Linked DNA regions of Homo sapiens: region 2 is linked to region 1. The links come from fine-mapping of genetic effects on gene expression. A gene starts in region 1. The other region holds a variant in brackets. All regions are shown on one strand. Distances are from middle to middle.

Region 1 (4,248 bases):
CTTTCCTTCCCTCTGGGTATCATGGACATGAACACCTTTTATGTCTCTGCCTCAAGAGGGGAGGAGGCACAGAGGAACAAAAATCCTTGTGAATTATGATAATTACATAGTGTTTAAATGAAGGGTGGCAAGGTGTGTAAGTCCATAGGTAAGGTTTCTTTTTTCTTTTTCTTTTCTTTTTTTTGAGATGGAGTCTCACTCTGTCACCCAGGCTGGAGTGCAGTGGTGCAATCTTGGCTCACTGCAACCTCCGTCTCCCGGGTTCAAGCGATTCTCCTGCCCTCAGCCTCTGGAGTAGCTGAGATTACAGGCACGCCATCACGCCCAGCTAACTTTTGTATTTTTAGTAGAGATGGGTTTTCACCATGTTGGCCAAGCTGGTCTCGCACTCCTGACCTCAAGTGATCTGCCTGCCCCGGCCTCCTGAAGTGCTGGGGTTACAGGTGTGGTGTGAGCCACCACGCCCAGCCTCTTCTTTTTTTTTTTTTTTTTTTTGAGACAGGTTTTCACGTTATTCCCCAGGTTGGAGTGCAGTGTTGCCATCTTGGTTTACTGCAGCCTAGGTTCAAGCCATCCTTGTATCGGCCTCCCAGGTAGCTTAGTCTACAGCTGTGTGCCACCACACCCGGCTAATTTTTGTAGAAACTGGGTTTCACCCCGTTGCCCAGGCTGGTTTCGAACTCTTGAGCTTAAGTGATCTAGTCACCTTGGCCTCCGGAAGTGCTGGGATTACAGGCGTGAGCCATCGTGCGGCCTGGCAAAGTTTCTTTATCCTCAGTGCTTGTCTGGGTGTGTTGTCTGGTGGGAACCACTTAGACCCTGTAAGTGAATGTGTATTCCCATCTTGTAGATGGTAACCTGAGGCCCAACGGGTGTCTGGAGGTAGTGTTGGACACCTCGTGGTCTGCATCTTGCTGCACACAGAATCCAGCCTAGACTCATTATCCTGGCCTTTGAAGTCTCCCCCAGTATGAATCCCCCAGCCTCCCATTCCTGTTTCTCCGAAGGCCAAGCTCGAAGCATCTGCTGCCTCGTTTCTGCCAAGTTGGCCCCACCTCCTGAGACACTTCTCCCCTCTACTGGCCTGGTGAAACTCAACACATCCTTCAAAGCCCAGCTCAGGTGTCACCTCTCTCCTGGTTGGAATTAACCTCTTCCTCCTTAGCACTCTCTGGTTTGGCCCTTTCTCTTGCGGCTTCTCCTGGGCAAGTGGCATAGCCTCCCTGATCCTAGTGTCTTCCTCTGTGCATGGGCACAGGAGTAATATCTGCTGTGATCTTTAACTCCTGTCAGTTCATTGACCTCTTTAACAACGTGATGAAAGCTTCCAGAAGAGCTAATGTATGTGGAGTCCCACGATGTGTCAGGCTAGGTGTTTAGGACTTTACTAACTACTGTCTCGTTTAATCGCGAATGCAGTGGACCTCTCTCTCCACACGTCCTAGTACGATCTTTATTTCACACGGGAGGAGAGGAGGGTGGGTGGGGTCGGCCAGAGAGGAGAAATGCGTCTCCAGAGTTCACAGGGCTGGTACTACCAGCAGAGCCCCGTCCACCATATGCCACAGCTGGGGTTCTAATCCCTGGACTGGCTTGTACTGGGCTCTCTGCCTCCCTGGCCGGCGCTCGGGGGCTGGGGGACAGAACACAATGTACAGCGTGCCTTCTACAATTTCGGGGTTCACGCACCCCCAAGCCCACCCAGGGCCAGGTCAAACGCGCCTTCGCCGGGTTGCTGTCTACAATCAGGCTTGGCTGCGCTCTCAGTAGGGGTCTCGGTCAACCTCTGCCCACCCGAACCCGGCGCCGTGGACCTGGTGTGAGGCTGGGGAGCCCGTCCTGAGGGGTGCCGGCTCGAGGCGCTAGAGCCACGGAGCCTGGTCCCGGGCTCCAAGTCCCAGGAATGTGGGAGGGCTGGGCGGAGGGGCGGGCGAGGCGGGAGCGCTTCCTCTGCCCGCGGGAGGGGATCCGCGGCCGGCTCGGAGGGGGCGGGGGCAGCGGCGGGCGGCGGCGAGGGGCTGCGGAGCTCCGCAGCCGCCGGGCCGGCCGGGGCGGGAGGAAGCGATGAATATTCAGAGGGGGAGGGGAAGGGAGGGGGCCGAGCGCTCGCCGCGGCTCCCTGCAGCAGCCCCAGCCGCATGACGCGCGGAGGAGGCAGCGGGAGCAGCCGCGGGAGCCGGGACCGGGTAGCCGCGCGCTGGGGGTGGGCGCCGCTCGCTCCGCCCCGCGAAGCCCCTGCGCGCTCAGGGACGCGGCCCCCCCGCGGCAGCCGCGCTAGGCTCCGGCGTGTGGCCGCGGCCGCCGCCGCCGCTGCCATGTCTCCGGGGAAGCCCGGGGCGGGCGGAGCGGGGACGAGGCGGACCGGCTGGCGGAGGAGGAGGCGAAGGAGACGGCAGGAGGCGGCGACGACGGTGCCCGGGCTCGGGCGCACGGCGGGGCCCGATTCGCGCGTCCGGGGCACGTTCCAGGGCGCGCGGGGCATGAAGCCGGCGGCGCGGGAGGCGCGGCTGCCTCCGCGCTCGCCCGGGCTGCGCTGGGCGCTGCCGCTGCTGCTGCTGCTGCTGCGCCTGGGCCAGGTAAGCGCCGGGTGGGCTCGGGCGGGGGGCAGGAGGCTGGGGCGGGACTGGCATTGACTGCACCTGCCCGAGCGTACCCCCCCGGGGGGTTCCGGGGAAGGGGGCGGGGGTCCGGATCCCCGGATCCCCGGAAGGCGACTTGCGGGGACCCCGGCCGGCCTCGCACGCCGGCGATCGATCCCTTTTCCGGCTGCCCAGGATCGGGGGAGAGAGGCGGGATCCGGGTGCCGCGGTGCCCGAGCCTCCCGGGGAAAGCCTCCGCGCGGGCTCCAGGCCGTCCCTGGCCCGGCTCTTCCCGGCGCTGGGCACATCTGGCGGGCACGGGCCCGGCTTCCTAGCCGGAGGCGGCCGGAGGGGGCGTGTTTGCGGAGGTCTGGGGACGCAGAGCCGGGCGGCCTGGCTGAGCCTTTGCCGACAGACCTCCGACCCGGCCTGCAGGGGCCCGAGGGGCGGCGGGGGCGACAGGGCAGGGCCAGGCGCTGGGCAGTGGGGCCCTGGGCGAGGCGCGGGACTCCGGGCCGAGGGCCCTGTTCCTGGGGAAAGTTCCCAGGCCGGGGAAAAGGTGGCCGCACGCTGGCTTTTCTCAAGGCAGCCGGCCCTCTTGGCGTCGTGCTTGATTTCATGGGTGTTTAATTCGTGCTTTGTGGGCGCTGGCTCCCCCTCCCCACCCCACCCTCACCCTCTTTTCTGGCTTCACTTTTCAGATAATGCTGTCCCTGGCGTTTTGGTGACCGACCTTTCCCCTTCCTGGCATTTCCATAGGGGCTGAGGCAGAGCAGCTGAAGGGGCATTCCCATTTCACAGATGGGGAACTGAGGGAGAGAAGTGAAATAGCGGAGCACCCAGCCCGTGCCATGGGAGCTGAGCCAGCGGGCACGTCCTCTTAGCCTCTGGAGCCTGTTGGGGTTTGAACCCGCAGGGGAAGCGGTCTAGGGCTGCCTTGCTGTGCGTTTCTGCAAATGACCATCTTGCTTGTTTTATACAGACACCATCTCTGAGGAAATGAGTTATTGGCTGGGGATGGAACCTGGTTTCAGGGAAAACTTCTCCAGCGCGAATACAGGAGAGAGCAGAAGCATCACCCTGGGGCAGCAATGCCGCCTAGCAGGCTGTAGGAGAAGGGGGCTGGGGCCTGGGGGCTGCGTGACCCTCGGCACCCAAGGGTCTCTCCTCGCAGTTTCCCCAGCAGGTTCTGCACAGGCTCTCCTGGGGGCCAGAAGGCAATGTGACCTCCTGCAGAGAACCTGGGAGTAGATGTCAGGAGACTGGCTCCAGGGCCGGGCCACAGGGCTGGACTTGCTCTTCAGGCTTCTCTACCCTCAGTTAACCGCATCTGTAGAATGAGTATAGCACCCTCTGCCCAATGGAATTGTTTGAGGGGCTTCCACTGGCCAATGTCTAAAAGAACTTTGTAAATATTAAGGGTTTCCACATGGGATTCTCATTATTAAGGTACAGTGCCTGTGGGGGCTGTCTTCTCCCTGTCCATGTAAGGAAATTCAGGGAAGCAGTGTCTGAAGTTAAAAAAGCCTTGTATTTGAAGATTTCTTGTATCAAAAGTTTATGCTAAAACAAAAACCACAAAAAACAGAAAACCCCCAAACTTAAAGCTTCATTTATTTTTAAATGTATAATATATGTAATTTTTTTTTTGCTTCAGCAAAAAAATTTT
Region 2 (4,248 bases), 29 kb after region 1:
GCCATTCTCCTGCCTCAGCCTCCCGAGTAGCTGGGACTACAGGTGCCTGCCACCACGCCCGGCTAATTTTTTGTATTTTTTTTTTTTTTAGTAGAGATGGGTTTTCACCATGTTAGCCAGGTTGGTCTCGATCTCCTGACGTCGTGATCCGCCCACCTCGGCCTCCCAAAGTGCTGGGATTACAGGCATGAGCCACCACACGGGGCCAGGCCTTTTTCTTTTCTTTTTTTTTTCCTCACTGTGTCACCCAGACTGTAGTGCAGTGGCACAATCTTGGTGCAACCTCCGTCTCCCAGGTTCAAGCGATTCTTGTGCCTCAGCCTCCTGAGTAGCTGGGATTACAAGCATGTGCCACCACACCTGGCTAATTTTTCTATTTTTAGCAGAGATGGGGTTTTGCCATGCTGGCCAGGGTGATCTTGAACTCCAGACCTCAAGTGATCTGCCCGCCTCCCAGAATGCTGGGATTACAGGTGTGAGCCACTGCACCCGGCTGAGGCCTTTTTCTTCTGTGCGTTCCTGCTGTCTTCCCTCCAGGCAGCAGCAAGCTGGTAGGAGCTGTACTTGTGAGTTGACATCATGATGTACAGTCACTGGTCACTTATAAAACTGGGCAGGCCCAGAGCAGGAAGGGTCATTGAGGGTCATCTAATGCAAACCGTTTACTTTAGAGATGTTGAAACCAAGGCGCAGAGAGGGGAAGTGACTTGCCCAAGACCACACAGCTAATATCACTGTGAGCCCAGGTTCCTGGCTCCAGTTCCTGGTTCTTTCTGCCCCCTTCTTCCCGACACTAAAGATACAGTGGTGAGCACACAGGGTATTCAGTAACGTATCTATTTTTGACCTGTTTTTAATGGAGGCTGAATTGGGCTTTTAGGGTTGAGTTCTGACACGTGCCAGGTGATCTGCTGGAGGGAAATCTGTTACTTCTGGGGAAGAGTTGAAGGTGTCTTCTGAACTCTGGAATCTGTTTTGAGGGGAGGCTGAGCCCATGCGTGGACCCTTAGGCTGAGCCCATGCCTGCTTCAGATGTTCCACACCTTTCACCACAATTTATTTATTTATTTATTTTTTGAGACGGAGTCTCGCTCTGTGGCCCAGGCTGGAGTGCAGTGGCGTGATCTTGGCTCACTGCAACCTCCGCCTCCTGGGTTTAAGCAATTCTCTGCCTCATCCTCCCGAGTAGCAGGGATTACAGGCATGTGCCACCACGCCCAGCTAATTTTTGTATTTTTAGTAGAGACGGGGTTTCACCATCTTGGCCAGGCTGGTCTTGAACTTCTGACCTCGTGATCCAACTGCCTCGGCCTCCCAAAGTGCTGGGATTACAGGCGTGAGCCACCATGCCTGGCCTATTTATTTATTTTTTATTTTTTTGAGTTGAAGTTTTGCTCTTGTTGCCCAGGCTGGAGTGCAATGGTGTGGTCTTGGCTCACTGCAACCTCCGCCTCCCAGGTTCAAGCGATTCTCCTGCCTCAGTCTCCCAAGTAGCTGAGATTACAGGCATGCGCCACCACGCCCGGCTAATTTTTGTATTTTTCATAGAGGTGGGGTTTCACCATGTTGGCCAGGCTGATCTAGAACTCCTGATCTCAGGTGATCCACCCACCTCAGCTTCCCAAAGTGCTAGGATTACAGTCGTGAGCCACCATGCCTGGCCACACCCCGGTTTATTGCATTTGCTTCTAATAGAGAAATCAACCCAGTAAACAAATGAATTATTGTTAGCAAAACTGGGGGGTGGGTTGGGAAAGGAAAGTAGTTCCTTCTATAATAAAACTTGCTGATATTTCGTTGAAAGTCATTGTCTTACTCATCCTTGTATAAGATAAGTCACACAATGAGTGGTATCAGGGTTGCAGGGTTTCCCCCTGTGAGGACAC[A/G]ATGGGATGAACCGTGTGTGGGATGGTCTGTTAAAGAAAAACAAGAAGCCATGTGTTGGAAACAACCTAAGTATTGAGCGGTGGAGGATTGCTGAAATTGTGGACTACTATGCAGTCATTACCAACGCACTGAAAAAATGTTCCATGATATGGCAGGATGTTTATGCTATAAGAAATTTAAAGACGCGAGCTTCAAAGTAAAGTATAAACCTAATTTGGTCAAACAGGCTGGGCGCAGTGGCTCACGACTGTAATCCTAGCACTTTGGGAGGCCGAGGCAGGTGGGTCGTTGGAGGTCAGGAGTTCGAGACCATCCTGGCCAGTATGGCGAGACCCCATCTCTACTAAAAATACAAAAACTAGCTGGGTATGGTGGCTCATGCCTGTAATCCCAGCTACTCAGGGGTCTGAGGCAGAAGGATCACTTGAACCTGGGAGGCGGAGGGTGTAGCGAGCCGAGATTGTGCCACTGCACTCCAGCCTGGGCAATAGAGCGAGACTCTGTCTCAAAAAAAAAATATTGGTTAAAGAAACAAACGTTAGACTTGAAGCCGTGCTTTATATGGATATGTGGTGCACTATAATGTGGTGCTTAAAAAGCAACTTAGGCAGACCTGGGCCAAGTCTGGGCTCTGCCACGTAACTGCTATGTGCCCCTGGGCAAGTCACTGGATCTTTCCCAGTTCAGGCTTCTCAGCTGTTAAGTGGGACTAGTACCTTATCTCTTTGGGTTGTTGTGAGAATTAAATGAGCTATCTGGGCTTTCAGAGAAAGGGCTTCATGTGCCGTGGCTCTGATCAGACCAAACAAGTTATCTACTGCTCTAAGCCATCAAGGCCCCCCATGCCTGTTGGATACTGTTGAGTTATTTGGGTTGGCATGTAGTGCAGCGTTTCTGGACATACATACTCTGGGGACTCCCCATCCCAAATTTCTTACAGTCTCTCCAGTGTGCCACACGCTTTCTTGCCACTAGGTCCTTGCATGTGATGGAGTAACTCTTGTACCTCTGTCTCCCTAAATAGACGGGGTTCTCCAAGGACATCGTGCCACAGGGCCTGGTAACCCAGTAGGTGCTCAGTAATTTATTTATTTATTTATTTTTTTTGAGACAGAGTCTAGCTCTGTCGCCCAGGCTGGAGTAGAGTGGCGTTATCACGGCTCACTGCAACCTCCCACTCCCAGCTTCAAGCAGTCCTCCTGCCTCAGCCTCCTGAGTAGCTGGGATTACAGGCGGGTGCCACCACGCCCGGCTTATTTTTTATATTTTTAGTAGAGATAGGGTTTCGCCATGTTGGCCAGGCTGGTCTCAAACTCCTGACCTCAAGTGATCCGCCCGTCTCAGCCTCCCAAAGTGCTGGGATTACAGGGTGAACCACTGCGCGGCCCATTAGGTGCTCAGTAATTTGTTGAATGAATTGAAGACATGGGACTTGAGTTAGGCTTTTATTATTATTATTATTTTTTGAGACGGAGTCTCACTCTGTCACCCAGTCTGGGAGTGCAGTGGCGTGATCTTGGCGCACTGCAACCTCCGCCTCCTGGGTTCAAGTGATTCTCCTGTCTTAGCTTCTTGAGTAGCTGGGATTACAGGCATGCCACCACGCCCAGGTAATTTTTGTATTTTTAGTAGAGATGAGGTTTCATCATGTTGGCCAGGCTGGTCTCGAACTCCTGACCTCAGGTGATCCACCTGCCTTGGCCTCCTAAAGTGCTGGAAATATAGGTGTGAGCCACCATGCCTGGCCTATTATTATTATTATTATTATTATTTTGGAGATAGGGTTTTTCTGTGTGGCTCAGGCTGGACTTGAATTCCTGAGCCCAAGTCATCCTTCCGCTTCAGCCAATTGAGTAGCTGGGATTACAGGTGCACTGTCCCTCCCAGCAAGTTGGGTCTTTAAATAAAGAGTGGGGTTTGGTGAGCAGGGTGGGTGCACTGTTCTAGGAGGTGGGCAGGACAGAGGTCAGTGGTGGTCCCTACTGCCTATTCAGGGACCAGGGCCCCTGGGCAAAGGCAGAGATAACATTGGCACAATCTGCCTTTCAGCTTTCATTGTCATGCGGGAGTCACCATGCTTTGTAAGACATTTAATCTATAAGACTTGATTAGTTTTGCTACCTTTCATAGCTTGGGGCTGTGTATGCCTGTTTGTAAGAGAGATCCATCCAGATCAAGCCTGTGCAGCAATAATGTATGTGCACAAGGCCTCTTGTGTTGTGCTGATGGTAAGATAGGAGCTGGACTTGGAGGCAGGAGGTGGCCTGGGTTCTGTTTCTGGACTTACCACTTACTAGACGGGTACTCTTGAGTGGAGTCACTTAAGAAAGTAATGCCGATCAGGGGCTCAGAGTGTCCCAA

Alleles and levels. Positions count from the first base shown, and alleles are read on the strand shown. Sizes are in standard deviations (SD) of each study's normalised expression.
For the expression in monocytes after LPS of the gene that starts at base 2,127 in region 1, G is the low allele of the variant in region 2 and A is the other (large effect, 0.81 SD a copy in Quach 2016).

The links. PIP is the estimated chance that this variant, and not a neighbour inherited with it, causes the effect.
Region 2: its variant is fine-mapped to the expression of PTPRJ in monocytes after LPS (Quach 2016, PIP 0.95).

What each region holds. Positions count from the first base shown.
Region 1 is chr11:47,978,433-47,982,680 of GRCh38, forward strand. It overlaps PTPRJ (protein tyrosine phosphatase receptor type J), which reads left to right and starts at 2,127. Exons shown (of 25, transcript NM_002843.4): 1 at 2,127-2,576. The coding sequence starts at 2,481. RefSeq lists silencers at 2,038-2,627, 2,728-3,157.
Region 2 is chr11:48,007,202-48,011,449 of GRCh38, forward strand. All of the region lies in intron 1 of PTPRJ (protein tyrosine phosphatase receptor type J), which reads left to right. Among named protein-coding and RNA genes, the nearest start is that of PTPRJ, 29 kb to the left of the region's middle. The variant A/G (reference allele first, on the strand shown) is at 1,887.